Linked DNA regions of Homo sapiens. The protein of the gene in region 1 purifies or fractionates together with the protein of each later gene. This does not show direct contact. Each region holds a gene or a part of one and is shown in the gene's direction. Other genes may lie near its edges.

Region 1 (2,998 bases):
GCCTTGGCCTCCCAAAGTGCTGGGATTACAGGCGTGAGCCACCATGTCTGGCCTGGCCAGGCTGGTCTTGAACTCCTGACTTCCGGTGATCCATCTGTTCTGGCCTCCCAAAGTGCTGGGATTACAGGCATAAGCCACCACGCCATGCCGAAGCCCAGCTTGTTTTTAATTTTTTTTTTTTTTTTTGGAGAAATGAGGTCTTGCAATGTTGCCCAAGCTAGCCTTGAACTCCTGGCCTCAAATGACCCCGCCTTGGCATCCCAAAGTACTGGGATTACAGATGTGAGCCACCATGCCCCAGCCTTGCTTTCTTGAGATACGATTTAGAATACCATAAGATTCATCCCTTTTAAGCACATAATTCAATGACTTCTGTACAAACAACCATGACTACAATCTAATTTTAAAATATTTCAATCACTCTAAAAAAGAAACCTCCTGCTTATGTACAGCGACTCTGTCTACCTCTTAAGTGAATTCTCCTACCTTTAATAGCCCTATTTTACAGTTCAGGAAACTGAGGTTCAGAGAGACAAAGTCACTTACCCACAGCAAAGAAGCAAGGCTGGGTATCAAATGCAGGACCCCCCCGGTCCTGATGCTTTTTTTTTTTTTTTTTTTTTCCTCTGAGAGAGACTCTCACTCTGTCACTCAGTCTAGAGTACAGTGGCGCGATCTCAGTTCACTGCAATCTCTGCCTCCTGGGCTGAAGTAATCCTTTCCTCACAAGTAAACCTCAGCCTCTCAAGTAGCTGGGACTACAGGCACACAACACCACGCCTGGCTAATTTTTGTATTTTTAGGTAGAGACGGGGTTTCACTATATTGGCCAGGCTGGTCTTGAACTCCTGACCTCAGGTGATCCGCCTGCCTCGGCCCCCCAAAGTGTTGGGATTACAGGCGTGAGCCACCACACGCAGCCTTTTTGTTATTAGACTCTGTCATTACTGACTTTTTTTTTTTTTTAATAGAAACAGGGTCTTTCTTTCCCAGGCTAAAGTACAGTGGCATGATCACAGTTCACTATAGCCTTAAACTCCTGGGCTCAAGTGATCCTCCTGCCTCAGCCTCCCAAGTAGCAGGGACTACAGGTGTGCACCACCACACCCAGTTAACCATTCATTCATTCATTCATTCATTTATTTTGAGATGGAGTCTCGCTCTGTCACCTAGGCTGGAGTGCAGTGGCACGATCTCAGCTCACTGCAACCTCCACCTCCCAGGTTCAAGAGATTCTCCTGCCTCAGCCTCCCGAGTAGCTGAGACTACAGGCGTGCACCACCATGCCAGACTAATTTTTGTATTTTTAATAGAGACGGGGTTTCACTCTGTTGGTCAGGCTTATCTCGAACTCCTGACTTCGTGGATCCACCCTCCTTGGCCTCCCAAAGTGCTGGGATTAAAGGCGTGAGCCACCGCGCCCTGCCAACCTTTTTTTAATTTTTCTTAGAGATGGGGGTCTCCCTATGTTGCCCAGGCTTGTCTTGAACTCCTGGCCTCAAGTGACCCTCTTGCCTTGGCCTCACAAAGTGCTAGGATTACAGCCTGAGCCATCACACCTGGCCAACAGGTTTTTTTTTTTGTTTTGTTTTGTTTTTTAAAGAATGTCTAGGCCAGGCTCATTTACTTTCACCTGTAATCCCAGCACTTTGGGAGGCCGGGGTGGGCAGATCACTTGAGGTCAGGAATTCGAGACCAGCCTGGGCAACATGCTGAAACCCCGTTTCTACTAAAAATACAAAAATTAGCTGGGTGTGGTGACACGTGCCTGTAATCCCAGCTACTCAGGAGGTTGAGGCAGGAGAATTGCTTGAACCCAGGAGGCAGAGGTTGCAGTGAGCCAAGATCATGCCATCACCCTCCAGCCTGGGCGACAGAAGGAGACTCAGTCTAAAAACTTAATTAATTAATTAATTAAAAATAAAAATACAAAAATTAACCTGGTGTGGTGGTGTGTGCCTGTAATCTAAGCTACTCAGGAGGCTGAGGCAGGAGAATCCCCTGAATCCCAGAGGCAGAGGTTGCAGTGAGCCAAGATCGAGCCACTGTTTGCCCAGTCTAGTGCACTGGGCTGCTGAATTTATTTGACCAGACACCTAGCAATAGACTTTGAAGTTCTTTTCCACTTTTCACTCTAAGATGCTGCTGTCATGAATAAGGAATATTTTGATCCCCTTCACAAACACTCGGGGCCCTCTTACCAGTTTTCACTGAAGATCTTGACATTCCTATCTGCTTAGGTGTCTGGGCGTGTTTGGGGGAGATACTGAAGAGGTAGGGCTCCCAGGCAGGTGCAGTTCGTCTGTTAGGCAGGCAGCAAGGTCCACTTCACCAGACACCCCCACCTCTGTTTTCCTGCAGGGACTCCAGAACGGGTGGAACTGGCACCCCTCCCCTCTTGGCAGCCAGTGGGCAAGAACCTTACCCTACGCTGCCAGGTGGAGGGTGGGGCACCCCGGGCCAACCTCACCGTGGTGCTGCTCCGTGGGGAGAAGGAGCTGAAACGGGAGCCAGCTGTGGGGGAGCCCGCTGAGGTCACGACCACGGTGCTGGTGAGGAGAGATCACCATGGAGCCAATTTCTCGTGCCGCACTGAACTGGACCTGCGGCCCCAAGGGCTGGAGCTGTTTGAGAACACCTCGGCCCCCTACCAGCTCCAGACCTTTGGTGAGGATTGAAGAAGCCAGCAGGGAGAAGGTGGGGGTGGGGTATCCTGCAATGCGGTGCCTGTGGCCACAGGATCTTTTGAGATGGGTGTGGCCCCGGCTAAGGGGTGCATGTGTTCTAGGCGTATGTGACCTAGGCTGCTGAGTGGCCCTGGAAGAGGATCTCGCAGGAGGGGGAATGAAATGCCCCAGAGAAGGGCTTCGGGACGTCCATCCCTGTCTGCTCACACCTTTCTTCTCTCCCTAGTCCTGCCAGCGACTCCCCCACAACTTGTCAGCCCCCGGGTCCTAGAGGTGGACACGCAGGGGACCGTGGTCTGTTCCCTGGACGG
Region 2 (4,196 bases), on another chromosome or scaffold:
ACAGACTAGGAATAAGAAATAATATACCAGCACAACGGAATCTAAATCCAAACAAAAAAATTAACATTTCTCCCCAAGCCCAAAGTCTTCAGAAAACTACCTCTGCTAAAGCATACCCCCAATTTTCACTGCTGAACAGAAATGTTTTGTTCTCAGGATAAAACATACATTCAGGTGACTTCAAGGTTTTCCCTAAGGGCCAAGGGTGAGGATTTGCTTTATATTTGCATAACTCAAAGGCCCTAGAGATGGTTTTCCCAATCTGCCCAACTGTGAAAGTCAAGCCTTCACTTCCTGGATGACTGAAAAGTGATCACAGATTTTTAAATGGCCATTTTATTCTCCAGCTTCTTGACTTCAAGGTTTCAGAAAATCTTGGGGTGTCTCATTTCAACCCGGTCACTCTTAGGCAGATTATATTTTACATGATTCAGTTAAACTCCAAAATTACTCTTCTAGTGGGGCGAGGTGCCTCATGATCCATGAGAGGATTCACACTGGGAAAAAGGGAGAAAAAGGAACCAAGAGTACAGCCAGCTGTCACTTAAGTAGGGAAAGCTGCCTTATATTCCACTGACCAGATTGCAATCACAGAGCCACAGCCAACTGCAAGGAATGCTAGGGAACGTAGCCTTTATTCCGGGTGGTTTTGTGCCTGGGGAAAGATTTTAGAAGAGTAGAAGGGTGCCTTAGAACTAGCGGTTTCTGCTACTGCCATCCACAGCATACCCTCTCCAACTCCAGCCCGAATCTGAAACTCTAGTACGGAACAGAGTACCTTCAGCCCTGTCCAGGAACAAACTCTGGGAGGACAAACTTTCTGGAAGCACAAATTGAGAACTCACTTTTCAGTCAGGGCTCAAGAAGGAGTGGCCGGCGAAAAATCTCCAAGCCAATTTCTTTCTTTTTTTTTTTTTCTGAGACGGAGTCTCGCTCTGTCGCCCAGGCTGGAGTGCAGTGGCGCGATCTTGGCTCATTGCAAGCCCTGCCTCCCGGGTTCACGCCATTCTCCTGCCTCAGCCTCCCGAGTAGCTGGGACAACAGGCGCCCGCCACCACTCCCGGCTAATTTTTTTTTTTTTTTTTTTTTTGTATTTTTAGTAGAGACGGGGTTTCACCGTGTTAGCTAGGATGGTCTCGATCTTCTGACCTCGTGATCCGCCCGCCTCGGCCTCCCAAAGTGCTGGGATTACAGGCGTCAGCCACCGAGCCCGGCCTCCAAGCCAATTTCTGACAAGCATCTGCAGGGTACCGGTCGGAGGAGTCCCGTAGTCATGGAAACCCCTCTGAGCCCCAGTCCGGTCTAAAAAAGGTACTTTCGGAACTAGAGCGCGCGGAACGGGAGGATGTCCCGGAAGTATTTCCCTGGGATCACCCCACCCACCCCCCCCGCCCGTAGAAAAGATGGCTGCTGTGCAAGTTGTCGGTTCGTGGCCTTCCGTGCAGCCGCGGGAGGCACCGCGGGAAGCAATCCCTGAGCGAGGCAATGGGTTTCGCCTCTTGTCTGCCAGGCTCTGCGCCCTGCGCCCGGATGACAGCAGCTCCGCCCGCACCGAGATCCACCTGCTCTTCGATCAGCTCATCTCCGAGAACTACAGCGAGGGCAGTGGCGTGGCCCCGGAGGTAGGCGGCGCGCCCTGCTGGCCCCGGCCCCGGCCCCACCCCTCCGGGAACCCAGCTGGTGGCCTCTGCCTGCCTTTCCCTGATCTTCCCACTCTCGCGCCTGATGATTTAGTTTCAGGATGGCGTGCCCCCTCCAACCTTGGCACATTCTTAGTTCTCCATTTGGAAGACCCTGCAGTGCTTGGCACGCTCGAGTCATTCAAAACCCAACTTGACGACTCCTGCTCTGATAATGCCTCGGGTTTCCTCTCTGATACCAACTTTCCATCCGCCCGCACCCTCCTTCACTCCCTCTCTGTGCACCCAGAACACTTGGTTGACAAAATGCATTACTACTGTTTATTGCGTACATGGTACACGGACCACGTGGGAATCTTAGAACTTGCGTAGTATTAGGGCTTGTTTGCTAATGAAAATACTGAAGCTCGTAAAAATACAGTATACAAAACTCTGCCACAAAGCCCCTATGTTTTCTGTTCCTACACACTAGCTCCTCCCCTCTGCCGTCTTTCTGAGTAATCTTACACACATCAGGCCTTAAATTAATGAATTCTCTGAACTGTTGACACCATGGCCTTCTGGCCCTACGTAGGAAAGAGGGAAGTGGTGCAAGTTGCCTGCTTGCACAGGCATCTCAAACTAGACAGTTCCTAAAGATGAAATTCATTAGCTCCAAACACGCATTCCCGTCCCCAGTCCATCCCACCTTCCAACACACATGCATCATCCACCAAGTCACACCAGACACAAACACTGGTTCTTCCCTCCTTCATCCCAGATCCTGACCAACTCAGGTATTTCAGAATGTGTCTCATATATATTTCTCAGTTCATCCCCTCCTGTCTATTCCCATAGCGAGTGCCTTAGACCTCAGGCAAGGCGACTTATGCCTGGACTGTTCGCTGATCCCCTCTGACTGATCTCCTGCCTCCTGTCTAGCTCCTCTCCAAGCCAGTCATTCCTCCAATGCCAGAATGATCTTTTCTTTAGGAGGAAAAAAAATTGTTCATAAACTTTAAAATCTGCTTTGGAAAAGTCTTCAATACGTATTGGTAAATGGTTGAAGCAAGTTGCAGGACAATTCATACAGAATGAGATCAGTATGAAGCTGGAGGAGGGATTTTAAAATATGTGTGTTTATATATGCAAAGTAAAAGGTCTGAAAGAATTGACTACAGAATAATAGTGTATGTCATTAGGAAGCAGAGTGAGATTAAGGCAGTAGTCGGGGACTTTTGCTGTATTTGTGTAATTGGATACTTTTGCAACAAAACTTCCATTCTCTCCTGTTACTCCCCCTTTTGTTCCTGTGTGCAGCCATTTAAAACTTGCTGTTCTTCAGGCACCTACTAGTGTTTCACACCTCCAGGTTTTTGCATACTCTGTCCACTTTGCTTGCAGTGTTTTTTGATGCCCTATCTGGCAAATTTCTCCTCATCCTTCAAATCATTCCAGATTCTGCTTTACAGTCACCTCCACAAGGCCTCCCTAATTACTGTTTCTGGACAGAGTTTGTACTTTATTCTTTCAGCACTTGATTCACCTTATTTTAATTATTTGTTGTGTTTCTTTCTCTCTCACTAGTTTGTGAGCTCTTTGAGGTTCAGGAACATGTTTGTTTTACCTTTGGAGCCCAAAGACCTAGCACACTATGACACATAGTAGGTGCTCAGAACCTTGTCATTCTATAAACATCGATGGATGAAGAGTGTGACTTGCAAATAGGTCCCTCTTTTTTTTTTTTTTTTTTTAAGAATTCCCTAATTATGCATAAAATCCATAGAAGTGTTAGGTCTGATTTTTCCCAATGGCATTGAAAATCTGGTTCACTTACCTTTTGATATTTTTAGCTTCAGTTTGTGCTTTCATACCCTAGAAGCCTTTTTCTGGTTATTTAATTATACTGTCTTTACATATAGAGAGCACAGAGTCTTCAGCCTGACCAAAACCGTACTGATTCTTTTCCTTTTTTTTTCTTTTTTCTTTTTTTTAAGAGACAAGGTCTCACTCTGTCATCCAGACTGGAGTGCAGCAGCAAGATCATAGCTCACTGTGACCTAAAACTCCTGGGCTCAAGCCATCCTCCCACCTCAGCCTCCCAAGAAGCTGGGACTACATACCACCATATCCAGCTAATTTTTTTAAAAAAGTTTTTTCTGTAGAGATGGAGTCTCACTATGTTGCCCAAGCTGGTCTTGGACTCCTGGGCTCAAGCAGTCCTCCCGCTTTGACCTCCGGAAGAACTGGGATTAGGTGTGAGCCACTGTGCCTGGCTTTTTCCTTCTTTTTTAGCACATGCTGTTTTTGTGCTATCACTTCATTTTTTTCCTTCCTGCCTCACATTTTCTTTCCCCATTTTGAATGTGAATATTTACTTTTATTTTCCCATTTGGCTGTGTTTTGAGGATCTTCACTTGACTAATAAGTATTTTACCTCTTATCTTTTTTTTTTTGGTAGGACGTTAGTGCTCTTCTTGTCCAGGCTTGCCGACTGGTACCTCTTAATCAGAATCATCTTGTCAGCAAAGTGAGCCAGCTTATCCACCATTTACTTAACAGATTACAGGTAATCAT
Region 3 (3,500 bases), on another chromosome or scaffold:
GAGCAAAAAGTATTCAAGGGATGCTGTGCTGTTTACTCTTCTCTCTGTTTTCTTCTTCCACACAAACATGCATCTGGGCCTTTGTATTCCCTTTTGTAGTCCTGGCACTACTGGGCCAACCTCCCTTTTCTGTACCCTTTTTTATATGGCTCACACATCTCCCAGTGTCCTTATTTCCCACTAGGAAAGAAGGGAATAATCCATGTTTATTGAAAGATAAGAGTTAGTCTTCTGGAGGGACTGCTGGAAGCTCCTCAGAGAAAAAGAGAAACATGCATAACTTTTAAGCCTCCTTCGATAAAAACTGTCTAATTATTTGGCTTCCTCCTCCCTCCTTTCCCAGGCATTCTCTTCATACCATGCCTTTGGGACCCCACGGGTTACAAGCACACTCACTTTGCTCAGGACCATAGTCTTGGCAGTGAGTGACTTCATATTTGATTACAGAAAGCAAAGTGTCCCATGGCTTTCCAAAGTACAGAGCTTTTTTTTTTTTTTTTGAGACAGAGTCTTGCTCTGTCACCCAGGCTGGAGAGCAGTGGCACGATCTTGCTCACTGCAACTTCCGCCTCCTTGGCTCAAGCGATCCTCCTGCCTCAGCTTCCCAAGTAGCTGGGATTACAGGTGCATGCCACCATGCCCAGCTAATTTTTTTGTATTTTTAGTAGAGACAGAGTTTCACCATGTTGGCCAGGCTGGTCTCGAACTCCTGATCTCAAGTGATCTACCCGCCTCAGCCTCTCAAAGTGCTGAGATTACAGGCGTGAGCCACCGTGCTTGGCCAAAGTTTTTGACAGCGTTTAATGTAATCATGATTCAATAACACTTTCTTCCCGAGCACCGTGACCCCATTTGTCAATGTGCTTCGCTTTTCATTTCCTCTAGTTCAGAAGTGCTGTGCTTGTATTTCAAACTAAAATGTGCTTGCCTTATATTGCTGTCTTTGTCAAAAATACAAATATCTGCCCTGAGGCCATTTCTACTTCAAAGATGCAATATGGTGCTTGGTACAATTTGGGAAATTTCTTTTTTTTTTCTTTCTTTGTTTAAAATTTACAAATCCATTCAACAACACATATAATGATCTGATTTCCTTTTTTTTTTTTTTAAGACCATGAGAGAATGATGCAGAGATTTTAATCATTAGCTCATTCTTTTGGTTTAAAACCATAATTGGTCTAGAGAATTTATATTTCATAAATTGTTCAATCCTATATTAAAATTCAAGATGCTTTTATTTATCATCTTGAATTGTACGAATTAAACCCATGCCTTTTTCTCTTGTTTTCTCCTCTTGATCCATGTAAGCAACCCCAGCCCCTGACCTTCCTGAAGTCTGGTCTTGTCTCCTGGGCCTCCAGCCTCACTCCTGCCCTCACACAGGCACACATACAATTCAGGGATTATGACATATTATGCACGAAAACCTTTTTGAGGAAAGATACCAATGTGAAGTTGTGAATATGGACTCCTGTTAGAGGAGGAGGGCTTCCTCATTAATCCGGGTGTGCTCGCTTTTCTATCGTGTGGAGGACTTCCCCAAATAGTTCATAATGAGTGAGCTTTTGAGAGATGGCCTTAGGAAAGATTCCTTCTCTGTGTAGCAGGAGGAAAGGGTGAATCGTATTTCTCAAAAATGAAACCATAAACAACAAAATATAAAACTCTTCACTGGCTGGGCGCGGTGGCTCACGCCTGTAATCCCAACACTTTGGGAGGCCAAGGCGGGTGGATCAGTCAGGAGTTCAAGACCAGCCTGACCAACATGGTGAAACCCCATCTCTACTAAAAATACAAAAATTAGCCGGGTGTGGTGGTGCAAACCTGTAATCCCAGCTACTCGAGAGGCTGAGGCAGGAGAATTGCTTGAAGCCGGGAGGCGGAGAAGCCAGGAGGCGGAGGTTGCAGTGAGCCGAGATTGCACCACTGCACTCCAGCCTGAGCGACAGAGCGAGACTCCATCTCAAAAAAAAAACTTCAGTGTGGTTCTCAGTCACTGTGATATTAACAGACACACAGTTTATTAGTATGCATGATACATGTGACGGCTGTGGACATTGCTTTTTTCTCTTTCTGAAATCTGTGTGACCAGATAGGTTGTTGCCCCTTCATATTTACAAGTTAAATAACTCCATATATGTTGGAATTTTTGTTATTAAATGGTTTGTGATTCTAATTGCTCACAAAGGTAGAAGTCAGGATTTCCAATGAAGGCATTTTTGGATACTATAAACCATTTTCTTGAAATGTAATGGTTTAATTTAAAATGTAGGCAGTCTTTTTTTTTTTTTAGACGGAATCTCGCTTTTATCCCCTAGGCTGGAGTGCAGTGGCACAATCTTGGCTCACTGCAACCTCTGCCTCCCGGGTTCAAGCGATTCTCCTGCTTCAGCCTCCTGAGTAGCTGGGATTACAGGCATGCGCCACAATGCCCAGCTAATTTTTTTGTATTTTTAGTAGAGACGGGATTTCACCATGTCGTTCAGGCTGGTCTCAAACTCCTGACCTCAGGTGATCCGCCCGCTTTGGCCTCCCAAAGTGCTGGGATTACAGGCGTGAGCCACTGCGCCCGGCCGACAGTTTTAATTATAATAGTTTTGAAACTAGACTTGTTACAAAGGTGAAGTGCATAAGTTGCTTATGACAATCTATTCAGAAGCCAACTTCATGGTTTAAAAAATGGGGAAAGGGCTGGACACCGTGGCTCACACCTGTAACCCCAGCACTTTGGAGGCTGAGGCAAGAGATTCACTTGAATCCAGGAGTTCAACACAAGGCTGGGCGACATAGTGGGACTCCTCTACAAAAAAATATTTAAAAATCAGCCAGGCATGGCGGTGCATGCCTGAAGTTCCAGCTACTTGAGAGACTCCAATTCTAATTTTAAGGAATTTTTTCAGTCCTTTATTTTTCACTTCTGTGGCCTTTTGCATGGAAATCCTTTCTCTTTCTAGAAATTGGGACGATGAAACACATGAGAAGTAAATGACTGACGTGAGGAGGGGTGAATTATGTTTCTGTACTGTTGTGTGGCCTCACCTGACCAAGAGTGTATGTTGCCATATTTCATACCTGGAGACTTTTCATCAGATTGAACTTTTAGGAAGCAATGAGAGTCCTGCTTTATAACCATGTGCCCTCTGGTGGTGTGGGATGCACGGCTGACTGCAGCCCTAGCCCCTTCATGAAGGGAATGTAAACAGAATCTGTTCTAGCACTTGAGTCCTCTTTGCCTCCGAATCATTTTTACTGTCATTGAATAACTTCTTCAATATTCTTGCAGTTATATTCCCTGCTCAGAGAGGATACACGTAGCTGTTACAGAAATGGCAGCATTATTCCCCAAAGTAAGTCACTTCCTACTCACTTGGTTTAAATCCTTTTAAATGAACAGCAAGAAATTTCTTTATGACCTATATATTACATTAGCTTTTTTGTAGCACATGCAGTTTTAAAATATGCAGTCGAGGCCGGGTGTGGTGGCTCACGCCTGTAACCCC
Region 4 (3,500 bases), on another chromosome or scaffold:
GTGATCTGCCCACCTTGGCATCCCAAAATGCTGGGATTACAGGCATGAGCCACCACGCCTGGCCAATACTATGGTATTTTTTTTTTTCAAATAAAAACATGGTGAAGTTGCCAATGATTTCTGCATTCTAAAGCTGCCAGAAGGTTTACTTAGCTTCTTTGCAGTTCTAAGAATACTGGATGATACAGAAACACCTTCCAGGTTAGGCATTGTTCAGGATTTTTCTGATAACTAATGCTTACTCCTTTAAGCACCAATGCTTAAAATATTCTTCCACTTTGGATAGAAATATTTATTGTTTAAAAAAATTATGTTTATTACTTTTATTTTTTTATGGGACACTTCACAAATTTTTGTGTTATTCTCGTACAGGGGCCATATGAATATTCTCTGTATCGTTCCAATTTTAGTATATGGGCTGCTGAAGTGAGCACAAGATAGAAATATTTCTAAAATGTATGTCTTAATTTTCTCTCTTCTTAAATAAAAGGCACTGGAAACACTTTTATCTCTTTTTGGTAATTCATGCTGACCTGGGCATTATATGAATATTGTAATGAGGCAATATCTGACATCGTGGTTAAGCACATGCCTTCTCTAGTTTGGCAGACCTAGATTAGAATCTTGGCTTGGTCAATTACTGGCTGCATAACTCTGGGACAGTTACTTGACCTCTCTATGCTCCTTTTTCCTCATCTGTATAATGGAGACATTAATAGTATCTGCTGTATATGATTGTTTTAAGGATCAAATGAGATAATACATCCAAGGCACTTAATATAGCACTGCACATAAGGCATACACAATAGCTGTTTTCTGTGGTGTTATTACTCGGTAATGTTCTCTGCATTGTTGTGTGCAAAATTATTCTTGTAAGGTATATATAGGAGCCATATTGAGGCACTCCTAGAACCCAGAAAGAAGACTAATAAAATCAATACATAAGGAATGAGACCGAAAGCTGAGCTGGGGAGCACGAAGCAGCCAAGAAGACTCATCATCTTGTCTGAAGCTTCCAGGTAGCTGGAAGACAGACTTAAACATAAATATTTGCAAATGTCCCTGGATAGAGTCTCTCTCGGGCCCAAAGTGCCTGGCACAGTGCCTGGCATAGGACATACCTAATAGATTTTTGTTGACCCTATAAAACTGTAGATGTACAAAAAGCAAGAAGAGCAGGGCTTGACTGTTGCTTAGAACACAATATTATTTATCTAAAGAAAGCATACCGGCTTGAAATTGTCAGCTTGGAAATGCAGAAAAATGGAGCCGCAGATGCAGCACCGTACCGACAAATTGAGTACTGGGCTCTGGGGCATGGTGACGACATTAAAAAAGCTGTTGCCTTCTGGTCCTCTGGGTGGCCAGTCGGCTTCTCCAAGTAACCCCCATCTGTGTGTTCTCATATGGCTACAATGTCTTAGGGTCTTTAGAGGATCACACATTTAGTAACTGATCAGGAAAGTCTGCTGAGACATCTGGGAACAAAGTGCTCTCGGAAGCACCCCACCACCTTCTTGATAGTGTCCTTTGTAACACAATTTTTTTTGTTGTTGTTGTCTGTTTGTTTGAGACGGAGTCTTGCTCTGTCTCCCAGGCTGGAGTGCAGTGGCACAATCTTGGCTCACGGCAACTTTGGCCTCTTGGGTTCAAGTGATTCTCATGCCTCAGCCTCCCAAGTAGCTGGGATTACAGGTGCCTGCCACTATGCCTGGCTAATTTTTGTATTTTTAAGTAGAGACGGGGTTTTGCCATATTGTCCAGCCTCTCCTGGCCTCAAGTGATCCACCTGCCTCAGCCTCCCAAAAGGCTGGGATTACAGGCGTAAGCCACTGTGCCTGGCCCACAAAAATTTATTAATTAGACATTTTTGTTTTTTACTTTCAATTTTTGTGGGTACATAGCAGGTGTATATATTTGTGGGGTACATGAAATGTTGTGATACAGGCATGCAATGTGTAATAATCCCATCATGGAGAGTGGGGTATCCATACCCTCAAGCATTTATCCTTTGTGTTACAAACAATTCAATTACACTCTTTAAGTTATTTTAATAAGTACAATTATTATTGACTATAGTCACCCTGTTGTGCTATCAAATGGGCCTTATTCATTCTTTCAATTTTTTTTGTACCCATTAACCATTCCTGCCTCCTTCCCCAATATACTTCTCAGCCTCTGGTAACCTGTCTTCTACTCTCTATGCCCATTAGTTCAATTGTTTTTATTTTTAGATCCCACAAATAAGTGAGGACATGTGATGTTTGTCTTTCTGTACCTGGCTTATTTCACTTAACATAATGATCTCTAGTTCCATCCATGTTGTTGCAAATGACTGATTCTCATTCTTCTTTATGGCTGAATAGTACTCCATTGTGTATACATACCACATTTTCTTTATCCATTCATTTGTTGGTGGACAGTTAGGTTGCTTCCAAATCTTAGCTATTTGTGAACAGTACTGCAACAAACATAGGAGCGCCGTTATCTCTTCCATATACTGATTTCCTTTCTTTTGGGTAACATACCCAGCAGTGGGATTGCTGGATCATATGGTAGCTCAATTTTCAGTTTTTCGAGGCACCTCCAAACTGTCCATAATGGTTGTATTAATTTACGTTCCCACCAGCAGTGTATGAGGGTTCCCTTTTCTCCACATCCTCTCCAGCATTTGTTATTGCCTGTCCAAAAGTTTTTAATTTTGATGAAGTCAAATTCATCTCTTTTGTTGCTTGTGCTTTTGGTGTCATATCTAAGAAACTCATAATCAAATGTCTTGAAGAATTTTTTTCCTGTTTTCTCCTAAGAATAATATAGTTTTACTTCTTACATTAAGGTCTTTGATCTATTTTGAGTTAATTTTTGTATATGGTAGGAGGTACGGGTCCAAATTCATTCTTTTGCATATGCACATCCAGTTGTTTCAGTAACATTTGTTGAAAAGACAACATTAGCCAATTCCTCCATTGAACTGATTAATGTAGCTACGTAGTAAGTTTTAAAAGCGGGTCCTTCAACTTTGTTCTTCATTTTCAAAATCACTTTGGCCATTCTGGATCCCTCGCATGTCCATATGAATTTTAGGATCAGCTTGTCAATTTCTACAAAAAAGGCCAGCTGAGATTTTGATAGTGATTGTGTTCAATCTATAGATTGCTTTGGAGAGTGTTGCCATCTTAATAATATTAAATGTTTGAATCCATGAACATGGGATGTATTTCCACTTATTTGTCTTATGGGATGTATTTCCACTTATTTGTCTTTAGTTTCATTCAGCAATATTATGTACTTTTCAGTGTACATGTCTTATACCTGCTTGGTTCAATTTATTCCAAAGGATTTTATTATTTTTGGTGTTATAAAAAAATAGGATTGTTTTCTTGATTTGGTATTTAAATTGTTCACTGCAAGTGTATAGAAATATAATTATTTTTTTGAGACAAGGTCTTACTCTGTTGCCCAGGCTGGAGTGCAGTGGTGTGATTACAGCTCACTGCAGT
Region 5 (3,500 bases), on another chromosome or scaffold:
TTAGGGGACTCAAGAAATAATAGTTCAGTTGAAGACCAAAAACACCTGGCTTTATTGGTTATGGAGACCTTGACAGTGCTTCTTCAAGGATCAAACACAAATGCAGGTAATTTAAAAAGCTGCAAGCAAATACTTTGGGAGATTACCACTGATTACATCTTCTGTGGTTATTCTTGCTTCTGAAATCTTCCTGTCACTTTAGAGAAAAAACTATTGATTCAGTGATGGTACCCGTCATGTCCCTAAAAATGCAGTGCTTTTGACCATCAGGAGCACCTTGATGACAAAACATATAAGATTGTTACTATTTCAAAATGATGTTTAAATTGCTTTTTATAGTGTCTTGTGTTGAAAGTATTCTTCTAATTTTTTATTGATACACTCTTACTCAAATAAGTTGCTATTTAAATTCTTTCTAAAATATTTTCTTTACACAGTGATTTAAAGAATATTTTTAGTACTACAAGTTAGAGTATTATAATGTTACAACCTTCAGGAAATACTGAACAATGATTCTCTAATAAAACGTAATCTCTCCAAGGTTAATTAACTTTACTAAATATTTTGTTTAATTTTGGTCTCAATTTCTCTTTTATACTTTTCTACCTGTCATTAACAGATAACCTAACTATATTTATAAAATATCACTCTTGCTTTTTAAAAAAGATTACTTGAGATTTTAATTAACATCAAACAACTCTCAGGTAATAAGTTCAGTACAACTTGAGAGGAATAATGAGTTCAGATTAGTAGGCTGGGCTCAAATCATAGGGAGCTTTTTAGGCCATGGTAAGGAGCTTGAAATATATTTTAAGTGTTATGGAAAGCCATGGATGAATGAACCCCATGCCCAAATGCATGACTGTTTGCCTGAATGCAGGGAAACTCAGCATTCATCATATTTAAAATATATTGTGTATCCCAGGTACCATGCTAGCTAGGTGTTAGATTATTCTAACACCTAGATGCTAAGGTAAGATCATTCTTGCTCCCTGGGAATTAGAATCTAGTGAAGAAAAATGTAGACACATAATTATAGAAGTAATTAGTCTGATACAAATTTGGCAAATGCTAAGATAGACTTGAATGAATTTAACAGGTAATTGAAACAATGAGTATGATGAATTTTAGTGGATACTATAGTAACATTTTGTCTATGGCATAATGCATAATCTTATTTCCACTAACTAGGTTTAGTTAACTGAGATAATCAGAAACATAATGAAGATAGACTAACAGGAATTTGCTTAGCAAATTAGCTTTCCTTGAGACGACCTAGAAGTTGCACAGGAAGAGATTGGACAATTGGAGAGCTTACTCTGCACGACTAAAAGTCACTTAGTACATATCCCAAAGTGCCAAACAATTTCATACAATTCTTTTCAGTTTTTCTTTTCCCAGTATGAAAGATGTTACTAGCTGTGTGATGTTAGGCATTTAAAACAGTACTTTACTCATAGTTTAAGTATTTAAATAATATTAGCCATTATGATTATCTAGTGGGTCCTAACTGACAACCAGGAGGTAACTAAACAGGCCTTCAGGTAATGAAAGGATGTCACAAATTCCATGTGCTGAATCTCAAGCACATGGCTTAGACTGACTTCATGATCTTATAATTTTTATAAAGTTAACAAATAGAAAGCCACTAAGCAGAGAGGACAGTGGCTGCTATAGCAGAATACACTGTTTTAGTAAACGTTTATTGAAACACAAATCAGGAGAAAATCCAGTAGTCATGGAAGACCAAACATAAGCAATAATAGTAAGACTGTTTGTTATAAACCATAATAGAGATATAAACAAGATGCCCTAAAAACGTAAGGGATAGAAGAATTACTTAGAGGAAATACTAATTAGTGATTTCAGTCACTGGGCCCATTTTTTTAATACTGGAGGATGATATTAATATTTGATGTGAGAACAGTATCACTTGTGAGCAGGAGCACAGGCTTACAGAGCTGGGCTATGTAGGCATACATCCTTTTCTGTTGCTTACTAGCTGTATGACTTTGACCGCCTTACCTCTATATGGTAGGGGATGAGTATTAAGTAAGTCAATCTGTGTAAAGGCTTTGGAGCAGTAACAATGACACATACTTCTGTTACAGAATTTGTCACTTTTTGTTCTTATGCTCTACCTGTGCAACAAAACATGTTGGTTCCTTGTAATTTTTCCCATGGTGGAATAATTTATTCCATTCCTTTCTTGCTACTATTTTGGAAGCCATGTTCATTTAAATCTCCTTTATTTAGGCTATTGTTCCTCTGAAAGCCTTTTACATAAGTTGATTACAATAGAGAGTCTCCTAGGGTCTGCCTAAGAGACTTGTGAATGTTCTAGATTTTGAGAGCTTGGACATGGTGAACATATCACGGCATTAATCTTGCATTAAGGAAATGTAGAGAAAATTTGCATATACCTTTGCTGACAACCCACTGTGCAAATTTGTATTGTAATTTAAAAGGTGAAATAGTTGGGTAGGTTTTATTTACATTATTATGAGTTACTTTACCTACAAAAAATAACTGAATGTTAATTCATCTGACTTGTCTCAGAATATTTTAAAGTAGCCATTGTTGGACTTTTTCTCCTTCCTTCAAGGAATTTTTCGAGAATTTGGAGGTGCAAGATGTGCACATAATATAGTAAAGTACCCTCAATGCCGGCAGCATGCCTTGATGACTATCCAACAGCTGGTGCTCTCCCCAAATGGGGACGATGACATGGGCACTCTCCTGGGGCTAATGCATTCAGCCCCACCGACGGAATTGCAGTTGAAGACTGATATTTTAAGGGTAAGTTTGATAAATGTGTTTCCCTTCTTTTACTACTAAAATCTGTGGTTATTTTTAGATGATCTGTATTTAAGTTAGAGACAGGGAAATTAAAAAAAATCCAAATTACCCAAGAAACCTCACAACTTTGTACACGTTAGGAACTTGGAAAAACTCCAGTCATTTATGTCTTTCAGTATATATTTTACTTCTGCTGATAAACCTTTTCAGTAATTATCTTGACTTACTGGAACTCTTAAATTAAATATTAGTGAAGTATAGGATCTTAATTAATACTAAATATATGTATTTTCTGATCAGTTAAATTCACTCATAGTGTTATGCATCTGTGAAATGAATGTTAGATTTGGCATTTTATACACATGCATGCATATATGTATGTATGTAAGTAATGGATATTCTAGTAGATATCAAACAATATACCAGGAGTTATACATATGCTTTTATCATTTACTCCTTAGTAATACTATAAATTAAGTAGCACCCTGTTTTGCAGATGAGAAAACTTAGGTTTAGAGAAATCATATAACATGGATTTTGTTCACTTAAGTGACTTTTAATTAGTAGAACCGACCCCCAGATTTCAATACCCGTTTTATTTCCACAGCACCATTGTTTTATACAGATTTATACACTCACATTCTCCCATATTACTGGTTATTGATATTATAAGAAATGATATGTAAGAAATTTTTAGAATC
Region 6 (3,500 bases), on another chromosome or scaffold:
TGTCTGGATGTGTCTTCCCTCAGATATCCAGCGACTTGCTCCCACACCTCACTTTGGATGAATCCACAAGTCTTTCCTTAAATGTCACCTCAGTGAAGAGAGCACTGGATTGAGAAGTGCAGACCCCCATCTCACTTCCCTGCTTTGTTTCTCTCCAGAAGCATTTCCCACCATCTAGCATCCCACATATTTATTTACTTGTTTCCCTCACCACTAAAATAAACATTCTATGAGGGCAGGGATTTTGGGTTTTTTTTTGTTTACCTCTATAATTCCAGCCTCTGAAACAGTGCCTGGCGATGAATAGATGCTTAATAACTTAAGGAATAAATGAATTATTTTATTGTGGGATTTCTTTGAATGTCTCATGATTCTGACTGTTCATTTCTGTTTTGTTTTTTGTTATTTTAAGTTCCCAGCGTGGGTCTTGTTGGGTGGTGGCCATTACTATAGGGTGGCTGGTATATATGGATTTTGTGTGTATGTTTGTACAAATGTATATGTTTGCTAATATTTCTTTAGCTGACAGTGCATTGGTTGCTGGGACAAGGATGGAGGCTTGGAGAACCTTTTAGTATGCATCTTTTGACATAATCTGTATTTTCAGTTCTTCATTGCTCCTGCTGATGTATTTTACTCCAGACCCATTTCAGATTTCGGTTCATTTTTCTTTAAACCTCTGGATTTGGGGGTGGAGAAAATAGATGAAAATAGGAGGTGAGGAAGAGAATTTGCGCATTAGTTAAATAGACTTTATGCCAATCCGTATTTTCAGATCTGCATTTAAAGCTTGCTTTCCATCTCCAAAAATTCATTGAAAAATTGAATGCTTATCTCCTGCACCTCACATTCTTGGTTTTATACCTTGAAAAAAGAAAAACTCCTCTGTTGCCATTTTAATAGCGTACTTTGAAAAAGATTAAGAAGTAAACACGTAAGGACAGAAGTTATCATGTTTTATATTCTTAGTGTCATGGAATGCAGCACAGGAATATCACATAAGGAAAAGCACAGATTTCTTGTTTTCCTCGTTTATTTTGGAAGCTTATCCTTCAGCTCTTGTTTATCTTTTTTTTTTTTTTTTTTTTTTTTTTTTTTTTTTTTTTTTGAGAGTCTCTCTCTGTTGCCCAGACTGGAGTGGGCATGATCATGACTCACTGCAGCCTCGACCTCCTGGGTTCAAGCAATCCTCCCACCTCAGCCTCCCAAGTAGCTGGGACCATAGGCATATGCCACCACATCTGGCTAAGTTTTTTATTTTTGTAGAGACAGGGTCTCCCTATTGTTTATATGCCTTAAGAGTCAAATTAACAGAGTACATAAGAAACACTCTCTTTTTAGCTCTCTTGCTAAGGAGCAGGTTTGAGATCTGTTGCCAGAACTTAGTACTTCGCAGTTTTATGGATTCCTCAGGAGTCTCGTCCATGGGGCTGGGGCGTGGCTACCCTCTGCTGACTCTTCCTAGGTTCCTGCTCTTCCCCAGCACCTCCCTACCCCCAGCCACTAGAAATAGACTGCTTCTTTCTTTCTTCTACTGCAGAAAACATGCACTACTGTACTTATTAAAATTAACTTAAAAAAAAAAAAAAAGCAGCTCGAGCTGCTTGAGTTTTTTTTTTAAGTTAATTTTAATAAGACATTGAAGGAAGAATTTTTTTTAAAGGGGGGGCTTATATGTATGGAGATTTATGGTGTGAAAGCAGGGGCAAACTCTAATGAATGAAGTTTTTAGAATTGATATGAACATGAACCCAAGATACTCAGACTTATTCCGAGAGTTCCTCTTAAAAACTGCTTTTCTCCACATAAATCCGAATGTCAGCAGTGGTTAGCTCCACGTTGGAGGAAGGGGGGCTTCATTTTGCTCTTTCTGCATATTTCCTGCAGTGATCTGTTACTTTCAAATCTGGGGGAAAGGTGCTCTCTTTTTCTGAATGAAGTCTCCACCTGCCTCCCTTGGGCCCAGGCTGCCCAGCTTTCTGGCTGCTCCCTGAGAGTCCTCCTTGGTCTTCCACTGACCTCCTTCACTTCCTTATGAAAGTATGTTTTTAGTCTCCCTAACCTGCTTTCTGTTTTCTCTCTCTCTCTTTTTTTTTTAATACCCTCAATTGTTTTCACTGGCCACTTTTTTTTTAAGACTGATGCTTGGCTGGGCTTGGTGGCCCATGCCTGTAATCCCAACACTTTGGGAGGCCAGGGCAAGAGGATTGCTTGACAAGGCCAGGAGTTCAAGATCAGCCTGGTCAACATAGCAAGAGCCCATCTCTACAACAAAATTTAAAAATTAGCCAGGTGTGGTGGTGCGCACCTGTAGTCCCAGCTGCTTAGGAGGCTGAGATAGGAGGATCCCTTGAGCCCCAGAGTTTGATGCTGCAGTGAACCATGATCTTGCCGTCCTGGGGAACAGAGCAAGACTGTCTCAAACAAAAAAGACTGATGCTACCTGCTTGGCAAAACCATGTTTTTAGAGCTATTTCTCCTAAGAAACCTGGTCTTTGTAGTTGTTCTGATGGCTTCTGTGACAAATAATGCCTTTTTTTTTTTAAGAGCTTTCAGATTCTTATTTCAGATCTAAACAGTGCTTTTCAGCTCTCAGTTCATCTTCAGATCAAAGAGAATAGTAGGCCGGGCGCAGTGGCTCATGCCTGTAATCCCACCACTTTGAGAGGCCAAGGCATGTGGATCGCTTGAGGCCAGGAGTTTGAAACCAGCCTGGCCAACATAGTGAAACCCTGTCTTTACTAAAAATACAAAAATTAGCCAAACATGGTGGCGTGGGCCTGTAATCCCAGCTACTTGGGAGCCTGAGGCAGGAGAATAGCTTGAACCCGGGAGGCAGAGGCTGCAGTGAGCTGAGATCAAGCCACTGCACTCCAGCCTGGGTGACAGAGTAAGACTCCATCTCAAAGAAAAACAATATTAATTTTTGGCTAATTTTTATTAGGAAAAAGAGAATATCCTGAAAAGAATATCATGCTAGTTTAAGGTTACAGATTTACTTTCTTCCCTGGGTTCCCTTTGGTTCATATTCTCTTGTTTAGAAATGATCCAAATACATTATTCTGAAGTATATGACAGTTTTTCCAAAATCAGTAAATACATATGTTGGTGCTTAAAACAGAAAGAAAGAAATAATGGCCTATAAATATTATCACATAGCTTATTTCTACTATTCAGAGATCTGTATAACTTAGGATAAGGAGCAGGTTGTTGAACGGTTTTTTGGTTTTTAAGTTTGAAGTACAGTCTGAAAGTACCTTTCAATATTGAAGGGCTGCCTGACTGAAACTTACATGGCTATCTCCTGGGCCTGAAGCACCACCGAGATCTGAACTGAAGGTAGCGTTTTGGGAGTCCTTAGCGTTTAGTTGGTATTTTAATATCTAGGGGTGAATGGGGTGGGAAGGGAAGGGAGTATGTAAAGGGAATAGACTGGAGAGCCCTGCGGATCCTCAGCATTTAGGAAACAGGGAAGACCTCCCACTAGAGGGGAGGGAGGA
Region 7 (3,500 bases), on another chromosome or scaffold:
ATAGTGAGGACGTCTTCGACATCGTCCTCATGACTAACAACCATGCTCAAGTGGGTGTCCGCCTCATCAACAGTATCAACCACTATGGTGAGCATGAGCATGAGGATGGGGGGTTTGCCCTGGGACACCCCTACCAGACCCCCCAGGGATGGGGCCACACCTCTGCAGGATGGAGTTGTACTGACCAGAACCCCAAGTCCAGTGTGTGCTGGTAAATTCGCTCTTTAAACAAACAAACAAAACCCTGACTTGTAGTGTTGCTAGTTTTCAGGTGTAAAATATTTCCACCAGGACTGGTTTCAAGCTGTCAGTGGTTGAACAACACAAATGGCTCACAAAATTTCTGAATGTTTAACTGTGGGCTCTTGCAAGCCAGTCCAAGCCAGCTCCAGCACACCCCACTCTCCGTGTGATTAGGTGAGACAGTTACTGCCTCCCTGCCTCAGTTTCTCTAACTGTGATGGGGCTAACAGGCCTCACAAGGCTGCTGGGAGAATCAGGTGCAGCTGTCAGAGTGAAAGGGCTTTGTGTCTTATTCTAAACTCAAGGTTAAAAATAATAGCCCCTCCAGAGCTAGCTTAAGCCCAGGAGAATTTTTTATTAGGTTACAGGGGTGTCTTTCAGAGGGCAGGAAATAAAATTGGGCCTACAAAGACCTGAATCCAAGTACTAGAAATCTCTCCCGGCTCTTCTTTTCTTCAGGCCACATGAACCTTTATTTGTGCTTCTCTAGCAAGTTTGCTCTTTTTTTTTTTCCTCTCTCCCCTGAAATTGGATTTCTCTGCTTTTCCTAAATAAAAACCGTATTCAAGAAAAGCAGGCCAGGTGCGGTGGCTCACTCCTGTAATCCCAGCACTTTGGGAGGCCAGGGCGGGTGGAACACTTGAGGTCCGGAGTTCAAAACCAGCCTAACATGGTAAAACCCTGTCTCTACTAAAAATACAAAAATTAGCCTGGTGTGGTGGCGCACACCTGTAATCCCAGCTATTCGGGAGGCTGAGGTATGAGAATCACTTGAACCCGGGAGGCAGAGGTTGCAATGAGCCGAGATCACCCCACTGCACTCCAGCCTGGTGACAGAGTGAGATGGAAAGGAGAGGAGAGGAGAGGAGAGGAGGAGAAATCCACTCTGGGGAGAGAGAGACAGAAAAATAATACACCTGGCCAGGCACGGTGGCTCACACCTGTGATCCCAGCACTTTGGGAGGCCGAGGCGGGGGATCACGAGGTCAGGAGATTGGATTGCTAACACCGTGAAACGGCGTCTCTACTAAAAATACAAAAAAATTTAGCCGGGCATGGTGGTGGGGCCTGTGGTCCCAGCTACTCGGGAGGCTGAGGCAGGAGAATGACGTGAACCCGGGAGGCGGAGCTTGCAGTGAGCCGAGATCACGCCACTGCACTCCAGCCTGGGCGACAGAGCAAGACTCTGTCTCAAAACGAAAAAAAAGAAAGAAAGAAAAAGAATACACCTATATTTATAGGTTTACCAGGCCTGGTTTTTAGCAACCAAGAGAGTCTAGTTGGCATTTTTAAATCCTAATTTCAAATTCTTGGGAGCAGGGTTGATCGTAAAAATATTTAACCACCTGTGTGACATACACACTGCGTAATCAGGACAGACTCTCCCTATAGTGCTGAAGCAGGGCCCTGAAGGACCCCTGCCGTACAAGGCATTACCGCCTTGTGTTGTGGACTCTGGAGAGGACAGAGGTCCTGGGTAAGGGGCTGCGAGAGTGACGGGTAACTTAATGGGCTCAGAGCAGCAGCCGTTTATCAACCAACAAATACTTTACAACTTTTGCAGTAATGGGGACCAGCGGATTGGCAGCCTAGGTAATCAGATTGGCCCAGCTTGGGCCAGATGTCTGCTCTTATCCAATCAGCTATGGCAGCTATGGCCAGGAGGCGGGGTCACACAGGCATGTAGCACTGTGATTCCTTGACAAGAGGATGTCCCTGTGAGCTGGGCAATTGCTCTAGAGATGTGATCGTCCTCATTTCATGAAGGATGGAGGGGCTCAGAGGGGAACACTGGCCTAAAATTACACTGAGACACGCTGTGCTGCCGTACCACACCCAGAACTAGGATGGTGTGCACTGGGCACAGAGAGACTGCCCTGAAGCCCAGGGTTGACCCTGGCCTCACCTGGGTCCTTTACCTCCTTCCCAGACCTGTTCATCGAGAGGTTCTGCATGACAGGTGGGAACAGCCCGATCTGCTACCTCAAGGCCTATCACACCAACCTCTACTTGTCAGCCGATGCGGAAAAAGTGCGAGAAGCCATTGATGAGGGTAAGTCTAAGTGAAGAGGAAGAATATGGGGAGTGCAGCAAAGGGGTCCCTGAGGTGGGAGGCCTGGTCCTGAAGTTCCGAGCAGGTGCTGGGAGTTGCCATGGTAACTAGAAGGCAAGGCTGAGCAATACTTTCCTTAATTCTTATAATCTGTCCTATAAATTCTGAAACCAAGGCCCTACCCATTCCATCTTCCTACATCTGGCCCTACTGTGTCATGGATGCTTTTACTTCTCAGCATCACCCAGCCTTCTGTTTCCATGGAAACCCTCTCTACAGCCCAGAAAGCTACTTTCTTCTATGATTCCTCCAAGTCAGAAGGAGTTCTGATTCCTGTAGGACCATAGGCAGCCTCTGCCCTGCCCTGGGCCAATGGGAAGGAGGATTCATATCTAGTCCAGCCTGAAAGCCTGAGTGGTGGGGTCTGGGGAATGGCCAGCATCTCCAGCAGCTGGGCTGGCCAGTGCTTAGGGGAGTTTAGGAGACCCAGATGCAAGTACTGACAAAGAGAATGTCCCTCTATGTGTGTCTTTCGAGGGGCAGTTTTGGGTGGTATCCATAGTCTCAGTCCTCCCAACGAGGTGCGTATCCTATTGCACATGAGATAAACAGGCCCATAGAGGAGCAAGGACTGGCCAGGTACCTGAGAGGGTTCCTTAGGCTGAACACTAGTGGCAAGTTTCTTTATCAACCAACAATATATTCACTTTTCTCTTCCTCTTTCATGTTGTCTCCTGCCTGGAAGCCTGGCCCCTCTCCCCCTGATAACTCACTCTCCTGAGCTGCTTGGGAGCTCCTAGAGGCTTTCTTTAACCAGGAACCAGGAGCCATTTCCCTAGACAGATGTCACACCCTCTGGTTGGGGCCTTGGCACTGGCATGTAGGTGTGCCTCTGTGTGTTTGTAACTTGACCTCAGGCTAGGGAGCAGGAGAATGGTCCACGGGGAGGCCCTGTTGAGGGTAGGGGTGGTTCTGGGTCATCTTGATTCCAGTGCTGGCAGAGCTGAGAGGGTACCTGGCTTGATGCCTGGCACTGGCCCTGCTTGTAGTATCCTCAGGCTAGTGAAGTTGTGTGCAGGTAGCACTGCTCACTCCTCCCAAAGCTCACCTAAGCCCAGCCTCTGTGATCCTCAGTTTTCAAAGAGTTGGGCTGAAGTGGTCTTTGAAGAGATGGAGACTAGGGAATGAGCTCGGCCAGTTGCCC

The links.
Region 2: the proteins of ICAM1 (region 1) and HEATR6 purify together in Homo sapiens (affinity purification with mass spectrometry; 2 studies listed by BioGRID and IntAct, with this or other methods). This does not show direct contact.
Region 3: the proteins of ICAM1 (region 1) and GIT2 purify together in Homo sapiens (affinity purification with mass spectrometry; 2 studies listed by BioGRID and IntAct, with this or other methods). This does not show direct contact.
Region 4: the proteins of ICAM1 (region 1) and ARHGEF6 purify together in Homo sapiens (affinity purification with mass spectrometry; 2 studies listed by BioGRID and IntAct, with this or other methods). This does not show direct contact.
Region 5: the proteins of ICAM1 (region 1) and WDFY3 purify together in Homo sapiens (affinity purification with mass spectrometry; 2 studies listed by BioGRID and IntAct, with this or other methods). This does not show direct contact.
Region 6: the proteins of ICAM1 (region 1) and FAM118B purify together in Homo sapiens (affinity purification with mass spectrometry; 2 studies listed by BioGRID and IntAct, with this or other methods). This does not show direct contact.
Region 7: the proteins of ICAM1 (region 1) and NT5C1A purify together in Homo sapiens (affinity purification with mass spectrometry; 2 studies listed by BioGRID and IntAct, with this or other methods). This does not show direct contact.

The regions. Positions count from the first base shown.
Region 1 is NC_000019.10:10,281,120-10,284,117, forward strand, and holds part of ICAM1 (intercellular adhesion molecule 1 precursor), read left to right. Parts: intron 1-2,201; exon of another isoform or gene 2,202-2,331; intron 2,332-2,361; coding exon 2,362-2,667; intron 2,668-2,913; coding exon 2,914-2,998. UniProt on the Homo sapiens protein: ICAM proteins are ligands for the leukocyte adhesion protein LFA-1 (integrin alpha-L/beta-2).
Region 2 is NC_000017.11:60,076,122-60,080,317, reverse strand, and holds the start of HEATR6 (HEAT repeat-containing protein 6), read left to right. Parts: upstream 1-1,396; 5' UTR 1,397-1,403; coding exon 1,404-1,622; intron 1,623-4,080; coding exon 4,081-4,188; intron 4,189-4,196. UniProt on the Homo sapiens protein: Amplification-dependent oncogene.
Region 3 is NC_000012.12:109,933,869-109,937,368, reverse strand, and holds part of GIT2 (ARF GTPase-activating protein GIT2), read left to right. Parts: intron 1-3,283; coding exon 3,284-3,347; intron 3,348-3,500. UniProt on the Homo sapiens protein: GTPase-activating protein for ADP ribosylation factor family members, including ARF1.
Region 4 is NC_000023.11:136,770,933-136,774,432, reverse strand, and holds part of ARHGEF6 (rho guanine nucleotide exchange factor 6), read left to right. Parts: intron 1-3,500. UniProt on the Homo sapiens protein: Acts as a RAC1 guanine nucleotide exchange factor (GEF).
Region 5 is NC_000004.12:84,816,691-84,820,190, reverse strand, and holds part of WDFY3 (WD repeat and FYVE domain-containing protein 3), read left to right. Parts: intron 1-4; coding exon 5-106; intron 107-2,605; coding exon 2,606-2,799; intron 2,800-3,500. UniProt on the Homo sapiens protein: Required for selective macroautophagy (aggrephagy). Acts as an adapter protein by linking specific proteins destined for degradation to the core autophagic machinery members, such as the ATG5-ATG12-ATG16L E3-like ligase, SQSTM1 and LC3.
Region 6 is NC_000011.10:126,218,282-126,221,781, forward strand, and holds part of FAM118B (protein FAM118B), read left to right. Parts: intron 1-3,500. UniProt on the Homo sapiens protein: May play a role in Cajal bodies formation.
Region 7 is NC_000001.11:39,662,108-39,665,607, reverse strand, and holds part of NT5C1A (cytosolic 5'-nucleotidase 1A), read left to right. Parts: coding exon 1-87; intron 88-2,173; coding exon 2,174-2,296; intron 2,297-3,500.